Regions from separate parts of the Homo sapiens genome. Here regions 2 and 3 are each linked to region 1. Evidence: fine-mapped expression QTL. A gene starts in region 1. Each other region holds a variant in brackets. All regions are shown on one strand. Distances are from middle to middle. Region 1 holds the start of PLEKHO2 (pleckstrin homology domain containing O2). Region 2 has its middle 25 kb from the start of ANKDD1A. Region 3 has its middle 29 kb from the start of PLEKHO2.

Region 1 (2,840 bases):
CAGGGCTGGAAGTAGCCTGGGAGCCTGAGGGCTGGCAGAAGGCCGTGAAAGGGGAGCTTGGTCGCTGGCACAGCCGCTGCTATGGCAGCCAGAGCCGAAGAAGGTCACCATTGATCTCACATGCACTTAATTTTCCCTTCCTTGGCATGGGACGGGGTTGACCAGGAGAGCTAAGGGGGAGTATGCGTGTGTGTGTGAGAGGGGAGCGGTGCTGCAGGCTGCGATGCAGCCAGTTACTTTCTCTCTCTGGGCCTCAGTTTCTCCAATGTAAAATGAGGGCGCATGGTATAACTAAAATCATTACTCTCTGCTGGTCCCCACACTCCCACTCTCCAGTAAGGCTGTCAGGGCTGCAAGCTCACCGCGGGATCGGGGGGATGGTCGACCCTCAGATACGGGAGGGATTGAGCGATGCCCAAGGAGAGCAGGAGAACACTGCGCTTGGAGACCCCTGAGAGCCAGGGGCGGGCCGCCCCCTAAAGGGACCCCGGAGTCCCGACTCTCAGCTCCAGCTCTTCCTGTGACACCACCCTCCGGACAGAGACCCAAGCTCCAGGCCCGGCCCCGCCCAGAGGTTCCAGGGAGAAGACCAGGCCACCGCCCACTGCCCGGCGTCGGGGAGGAAAGAGGAGGAGCCTCTGTGTGCCCACATCTCTGGCCGCCCAGGGCAGCTCGGCTCGGTCTCGCAACCCCAGCCCACTGGTTCGGGAGACCTCAAAGGCTCCACCGCCAGCGCCCCCAGCGCTCACTGTGTGCGCCCCACCCCAGCCCTGCCTGCGCGCCGCTCCCGCCACCCTCGCCTCAGTCTCTGGGCCGGAAGCCCCCTCTCCTCCCCCGCCGCAGCCCCCTCCTAGTCCCTCTCCCTCCGCCGATGCGGGAAACCTTCTCCGCCCCGTCCCGCCCTCTTCCTCCAGTTGCATCTCCGCCCGGCTCCTCCGTCCAGTCTCCAACCCAGGCCCCGCCCCTCCCCACCCATTTCCCGCCCTGGGCCGGGCCCCCGGCCCCACCGCCCCCTCCCCGGCCCCGCCCCGGCCCCCGGAAGCCTCACCCCGCCCCCGGCCCCGCCCCCCCGAAGTTTCTTGGGCCCCCGGCAGCCGGCGGGACAGAACGCGGAGAGTCGCCGCCTGGCCGGGCGTAGACGCGGTGGCAGAGCCCGCGCGGCGCTGGAAGCGAGTGGCGGAGCGGCGGGACCTCGGCGGACTCGCCATGGAGGAGGAGGTGAGGGCGGGGCCCGGCGGGGCGTTGGGCTGGGGTCCTCGAGCCCCTCACGGGGATTGCGGTCCTGGGCTCAGGCCCTCGTTCCTGCCCGCCCCACTCCCGCCAGTCTCACCTCAGGAAGAGCCTGGGCAAATGGGGCAGGGGCGAGGGGCTGGATCCATATCGGGGACTTCGCAGACCGCGTCCTCCTTCATTCTCGCTGACTTTCTCACCAGTTGTGGGGCGTCGTGGTTGTTACCGTTCCCATTGGATTGACCAGGAGACTGAGACTCCAGCGAGATTGATGACTTGCTGAAAGTGGCCTGGGTGACTGGGCTCGAACCCCGATTACCGTGGTCGGATCCTGACTCTCTCTCTCTCTCTGTGTGTGTGTGTGTGTGTGTGTGTGTGTGTGTCGGATCCTGACTGTGTGTGTGTGTGTATGTGTGTGTTGGGGGGTTCCTGTCTCAAGGATCGGATCCTGACTCTGTGTGTGTGTGTATGTGTGTGTTGGGGGGTTCCTGTCTCAAGGATGTGACCATGCTTTGGTGGCAGGAGGATTGGAGAAGTTGCTTTTTTCTCCCTTGTATAAGTCTCTGTATCTTTTCCCCCACTCTCTCCCCGCTCCACATCCATCTGAGCAGCTAGCTGTAGGGAAGGAATCGGGAGTCCGGCCCACCTAGGGTCTGATCTTAGTCCCTGCCTTCCCCACCCGAGGGCTGGACCAACTGTGTCCCTGGAGCCTCCTTCTAACCACTCAAAACACTCTTGGCCTGGGATTGGGTCTTGCCCCTGCCCCTGCCCTTTACTTGCAAACTCAGTTCTGCCAGCAGCCGCTTTATCCGAGGGTCCAGCACGCAGCAAGCACTTAATATATGCCTGTGGAATGATTAAGTTAAAATGAGGGGCCTGTTGGGTCTAGAGGAAGGTGAATTTGTTTCTTATCCCCTGAGGGGGTCCCAGCTTCAGCCCCTCTCAGCCCAAGGGAAGGGGCATGTCTTTGCCTCCTTGGATGGGGAGGAAAGATGAAGTTCTCTGCCTTGGGGGAACCCTGGCCAGCTGGGAAGCCCTGAGTGGACCGGACTGCCTGTGTCCCTTCAGTGCCCACCTCCCACTTTTCCAGGGCCATGGATAGGAGCAGCTAGTGGTCCGTCAGGGCTCCCTCTAGGCCAGGCCCTGCCTTTCTGTGGGATGGTAGATAAGTCACTTCCCCTCTCAGCCTTCATTTCCTCTTCTACAAAATATAGTGCCTGTCCTCCTCATACTCCTGGCCTGACAGTGGCCGGTTCTCTCAGTGGGTGAAGGTAGGGGGCAAAGTCAGGCCTCTGTGATTTGCTGCGGTTTCTTTCTGGCTGTTAGGTGGGGCTGCCATCTGCCTGCCCCAGGCCCCTGCTGCAAGGGCTGGGCTCTCTGGCCAGGGCCCCTCCCCTGCTCCCAGAGGATGTGGGTCAGGATTACTCCATCTCCTGATCTGCGCTGGCCCCTGATTAAGGGAAGTTCTCCGGACACCTCCTGGGCCCGGCTCAGCTCTGTACACCCTTGGTCCTGAATCTCTCACATTGTCACTTTCTTTTCTTTTTTTTTTTTTTTGAGACGGAGTTTCGCTCTTGTTGCCCAGGCTGGAGTGCAGTGGCGAGATATTG
Region 2 (2,500 bases), 44 kb after region 1:
TTGAGCCCAGGAGGTTGAGGCTGCAGTGGGCCATGATTGTGCCACTGCACTCCAGTCTGCTGGGTGACATGAGACCCTGCCTCAAAAACAAAAAAATAACAAAAAAAAGCCGGGCACAGTGGCTCGTGCCTGTAATCCCAGCACTTTGGGAGGCTGAGGCGGGTGGATCACCTGAGGTCGGGAGTTCGAGACCAGCCTGGCCAACATTGTGAAACCCCATTTCTACTAAAAATACAAAAATTAGCCGAGCATTGTGGTGCATGCGCCTGTAGTCCCGGCTACTCGGGAGGCTGAGGCAGGAGAATTGCTTGAACAGGGGAGGTGGAGGTTGCAGTGAGCCAAGATTGCGCCACTGGACTCCAGCCTGGGTGTGACAGAGCAAGGCTCTGTCTCAAAAAAAAAAAAAAAAAAAAAAGATTTTGATTTTTTAAAGACAATTTTCCAGTCACATCAGAAAGTTGAGTGCTGATCTGATTATTTCACTTAATTGCATAAAATTCAACTCTGTGACATCCCTGGACAGTGAGCAACCCACAGCTCCTCAGTTGAAAAGTCTTCCCCCAGAAAAGGCATATACATTGTTTAACTTAAAAGCTGCATGTTGGCCGGGCGTGGTGCCTCACGACTGTAATCCCAGCACTTTGGGAGGGCGAGGCGGGTGGATCGCGAGGTCAGGAGTTTGAGACCAGCCTGGCCAACATGGTGAAACCCCGCCTCTACTAAAAATACAAAAATTAGCTGGGCATGGTGGCAGGTGCCTGTAATCCCAGCTACTGGGGAGGCTGAGACAGGAGAATCGCTTGAACCCTGGAGGTGGAGGTTGCAGTGAGCTGAGATTGTGCCATTGCACTCTAGCCTGGGGGACAAGAGTGAGACTTTGTCTCAAAAAAAAAAAATGCATGTTTTTCTTCATACTTATGTCTAATCATCATAATTAGACAATGTCGTAAGAAGAATAGTTAAAGGACTATTCTGGCCAAGGGCCTTTTGGCCAGAAAAAAGGCTGGCGGTAGAGGGCTGGGGGAGAGGACACAAGACAGCTATCTTGTTCTTATGAAGGGCGGCCCTTACATTCCTGTGTGCAGATCTGGAAGCCCGACAAGGACTCATGGTTTGAAATCAGGACTCCAGGCCAGGCGCGGTGGCTCACGCCTGTAATCCCAGCACTTTGGGAGGCCGAGGCAGGCGGATCACGAGGTCAGGAGATCAAGACCATCCTGGCTAACACAGTGAAACCCCATCTCTACTAAAAAATACAAAAAATTAGCCGGGTGTGGTGGCGGGCACCTGTAGTCCC[C/T]GCTACTGGGGAGGCTGAGGCAGGAGAATGGCATGAACCCAGGAGGCGGAGCTTGCAGTGAGCCGAGATCGCACCACTGCACTCCAGCCTGGGTGACAGAGCAAGACTCCGTCTCAAAAAAAAAAAAAAAAAAAAAAAGAAATCAGGACTCCAGGCGAATGTCCATATAGTTTCTCTTCTCTCTTTCAGCCACTTCTCCCGGGGCCTTGGGTCCCCCTGCTGGCTCCCCTCCCTTCTATGGAGATGTGCTCTGGGAGAAAGGCCATGAGAAAGAAGCTGGTGTTGAGGACAGAGTGGCTGACCCAAAGCGGAGTTGGTTGGGATGCTGGCCAGGGGACTGCCCACAGGTGTGGTTGAGAACCCATCACCATACCTCCTTGAGTTTCAGTCTCCCCAGCTGTAAAATGAGGACAATGATATCTGCTCTTAGTTGGCAGGCACTAAATGAGATGGTAAATGAGAAAATATTTGTGGTACAAGGTCACAAGGATCAAAAACTCCCTCACACTCAGGTATAGGTGACTGATAATCCTTCAAGGATAGCTTTTCGCAGTAGGCTAAGCCATGTAAATAGAAATAACTATTTCTTTTTTTTTTTTTTTTTTGAGATGGCGTCTTGCTCTGTCACCAGGCTAGAGTGCAGTGGCGTGATCTCAGCTCACTGCAACCTCTACCTCCTGGGTTCAAGTGATTCCCCTGCCTCAGCCTCCCCAGTAGCTGGGACTACAGGCACGCACCACCACATCTGGCTTCACCATGTTGGCCAGGATGGTCTCAATCTCCTGACCTCGTGATCCACCCACCTCGCCTCCAAAAGTGCTGGGATTACAGGCATGAGCCACCATGCCTGGCCAGAAAATAACTATTTCTATGTAAATTGGGGATCAAGTCTAGGTCGAAGGACTGACTTTCTTTTCCAATGGTGAACTCCCCTTCACGTGGATGGGAGAAATAGCACAGTTTCAGAATCAAACACTTCTGGGGTTGAATCCTAGCTCCCCCATGTCCTACATCTGGCCTTAAGCAAGATGGTTCACTTCTTTGAGACTCACTTTATCATCTGTTAAGTGGGGATAATAACAGAACACACCCCCCAGTGCTGTTGTGAAGATTAAATAAAATCCTCTGTGAAGAGCACTCAGCCCAGAGGTATGGGAAGACACACCTCAAAAATGTTTATTAGGCCAGGTGTGGTGGTTCACG
Region 3 (2,840 bases), 29 kb after region 1:
GCCTTGCTTTGTCTCTGATGACATTGACATTTTTGAAGAATACAGTCCTCCCCTTTCTGATTCCTCTTTTGGGGTTTGTCTGAGGTTTCCACCTGCTTAGTTGTGATAGTTAATTGAGGTTATGGATTCTCAGCTGGAAACTGCACAGGCAATTGGGTCCTTCTCAGGATATTACTCTGGAGATGGACTACCTGCATCTGGCCCTCATGGGTGATGTTCATTTTGATTACTGGGGCCAGGTGTCTGATTTTTCTACTGTTAATGTTTTTGCATTTTTCCTCTTACTAATAATCTGGGAGACAAGATCATCTAAATATGTTGCACCTCACCACAAATTTCCCCAGATTTAGTATCCATTGATGATTCTTGCTGAACAGGTGTTTCCTACAATGGTTCTAAAATGATGATTCCAGCCATTATTTTACCCTCAGAGCCTGGTCCTTGTTAAGGGTGAGCCTGGGTCCTATCTTTGGCTCCTGACCTCCTGACACAAACAAAATGCAGCAGAATTCCAGGGCTTCCCTGAACACTGTTGGGAAGCCCTTAGGCCAGTGGACAGCTCCAAACCAGGCTGCCAAGGTCCAAATCTCACCCAAGGACCTTGGGTGTGTCTCAGTTTCAGGAGACCTCAGTTTCCTCACCCACAAAAGGGGATTACAGCCACACCCTCTCCCCACCCGCCATCCCCCATGTGGGAAAGCACGACTGTGCTCACCAAAGCCCAGCTCCCTTCCTCCTCCTCTGTGAGAACCATGGACAGACCCCGGGGCCAACACAACAGGAAACACCTGAACCGGGGCCTATCAATTGTGGCAATGACCCTCATGTCGCTCCTGAATTCCCCTGCCACTGCCCTGGCGCGTGACAGCTATACCGAGTGAGTGGCCCGCAGAAGCTGAGGGACCTCAGGTGAATCACTCCATCTTCCCAGGCCCCTTCATCATAGAGGAGTCTTTTTGATGGCAGAGTCCCCTCTGTAAGGCCACTTTGAAGAGAGTGGCTGCTGGGATGGTGTTGGCCAGCCATGGGGAAGGATGTGGTAAGAAGCACATTTCTGGCCAGGCGCGGTGGCTCACGCCTGTAATCCCAGCACTTTGGGAGGTCAAGGTGGGCAGAGCACAAGGTCAAGAGATCGAGACCATCCTGGCCAACACGGTGAAACCCCATCTCTACTAAAAATACAAAAATTAGCTGGGCATGGTGGCATGTGCCTGTAGTCCCAGCTACTGGGGAGGCTGAGGTAGGAGAATCGCTTGAAATCAGAAGGCGGAGGTTGCAGTGAGCCGAGATTACGCCACTGCACTCCAGCCTGGCGACAGAGCAAGACTCCATCTCAAGAAAAAAAAAAAGAAGAAGAAGTGCGTTT[C/T]CCTCTGGTCTTGGGGCTGGAGGCCTGTGCAGAGAAGGGTAGCCCTCCTTTTGAACACAGGCTGCCATATCTCTGTGACTTGAAGTCCTGTGGGTTGTTACAGTGCAGGATTTTTTTTTTTTTTTTTTTGAGATGGAGTCTGGCTCTGTCGCCCAGGCTGGAGTGCAGTGGCGCTATCTTGGCTCACTGCAACCTCCGCCTCCTGGGTTCATGCCATTCTCCTGCCTCAGCCTCCCAAGTAGCTGGGACTACAGGCGCGCGCCACCACACCCAGCTAATATATATATATATATATATATAATTTTTTTTTTTAGTAGAGACGGAGTTTCACCATGTTAGCCAGGATGGTCTCGGTTTCCTGTCCTCATGATCCGCCCGCCTCAGCCTCCCAAAGTGCTGGGATTACAGGCGTGAGCCACCGCACCTGGCCTTTTTTTTTGAGACTGAGTCTCTGTCGCCCAGGCTGGAGTGCAGTGGTGTGATCTTGGCTCACTGCAACCTCCGCCTCCTGGGTTCAAGCGATTCTTCCGCCTCAGCCTCCCGAGTAGCTGGGATTACAGTTGCCTGCCATCACACCTGGCTGATTTTTGTATTTTTTGTAGAGACGGGGTTTCACTATGTTGGCCAGGTTGGTCTCGAACTACTGATCTCAGGTGATCCACCCACACTGGCATCCCAAAGTGCTGGGATTATAGGCGTGAGCCATGGAGCCCGGCTAGGATATGTACATATTTTTTAATTAAGACGGAGTCTCGGTCTGTCATCCAGGCTGGAGTGCAGTGGTGTGATCTCAGCTCATGGCAACCTCCGCCTCCTGGGTTCAAGCAATTCTCCTGCCTCAGCCTCCTGAGAGCTGGGACTACAGGCGTGCGCTACCACGCCTGGCTAATTTTTGTATTTTTAGTAGAGATGGAGTTTCACCATGTTGGCCAGGCTGGTCTCGAACTTCTGACCATGAGTGATCTGCCCGCCTTGGCCTACCAAAGTGCTTGGGATTACATGCGTGAGCCACCGTGTCCAGCCCAGTAGAGGGTTTCACAAATCACAAGGTGGCTATCATCAGACAGGACCCAGGACAGGGGGAGGGGCAACCAGATTGCCCCTTCCTCTACCCCTGCCTAGGCCCTGGCGGCATCCTGTCTCGGGAGTCACTGTGTTTTGTTCCCTTCTCCCTGTCTTGTCTTCCTGCCTCCCCACCCCTACCCTCATGTCCCAGACAAAAGGGGTGTCAGAAAAGACAAACTCACTCCACAGAGGTTTCTGTGACCAAGGAGGCTCTGTGATGGAACATGGATGGTGGAGAGGTGATGATGGAAATTCCTCCCTGTTGACATAATTTAACAAAATTCTTAGAGGAAACAGCAGGATGTAAGTAGAGAAAACATGACTTCAGGTTTGGAGGCAGACACACCTGGATTCAAACCCCAGGGGTAGCCAGGTGCAGTGGCTCACACCTATAATCCCAGCACTTTGG

The links. PIP is the estimated chance that this variant, and not a neighbour inherited with it, causes the effect. A credible set is the group of variants that fine-mapping cannot tell apart.
Region 2: its variant is the best candidate, but not a certain one, in a credible set for the expression of PLEKHO2 in fibroblasts (GENCORD, PIP 0.61).
Region 3: its variant is the best candidate, but not a certain one, in a credible set for the expression of PLEKHO2 in subcutaneous fat (GTEx, PIP 0.70).

Annotation. Positions count from the first base shown.
Region 1 is chr15:64,840,811-64,843,650 of GRCh38, forward strand. PLEKHO2 (pleckstrin homology domain containing O2) reads left to right here and starts at 1,105. Exons shown (of 6, transcript NM_025201.5): 1 at 1,105-1,218. The coding sequence starts at 1,207. It also overlaps a transcript of LOC124903508 not described here. RefSeq lists silencers at 628-947, 958-1,397 and enhancers at 1,205-1,728, 1,761-2,312.
Region 2 is chr15:64,885,454-64,887,953 of GRCh38, forward strand. No RefSeq gene overlaps it. Among named protein-coding and RNA genes, the nearest start is that of ANKDD1A, 25 kb to the right of the region's middle. The variant C/T (reference allele first, on the strand shown) is at 1,298.
Region 3 is chr15:64,869,746-64,872,585 of GRCh38, forward strand. No RefSeq gene overlaps it. Among named protein-coding and RNA genes, the nearest start is that of PLEKHO2, 29 kb to the left of the region's middle. The variant C/T (reference allele first, on the strand shown) is at 1,367.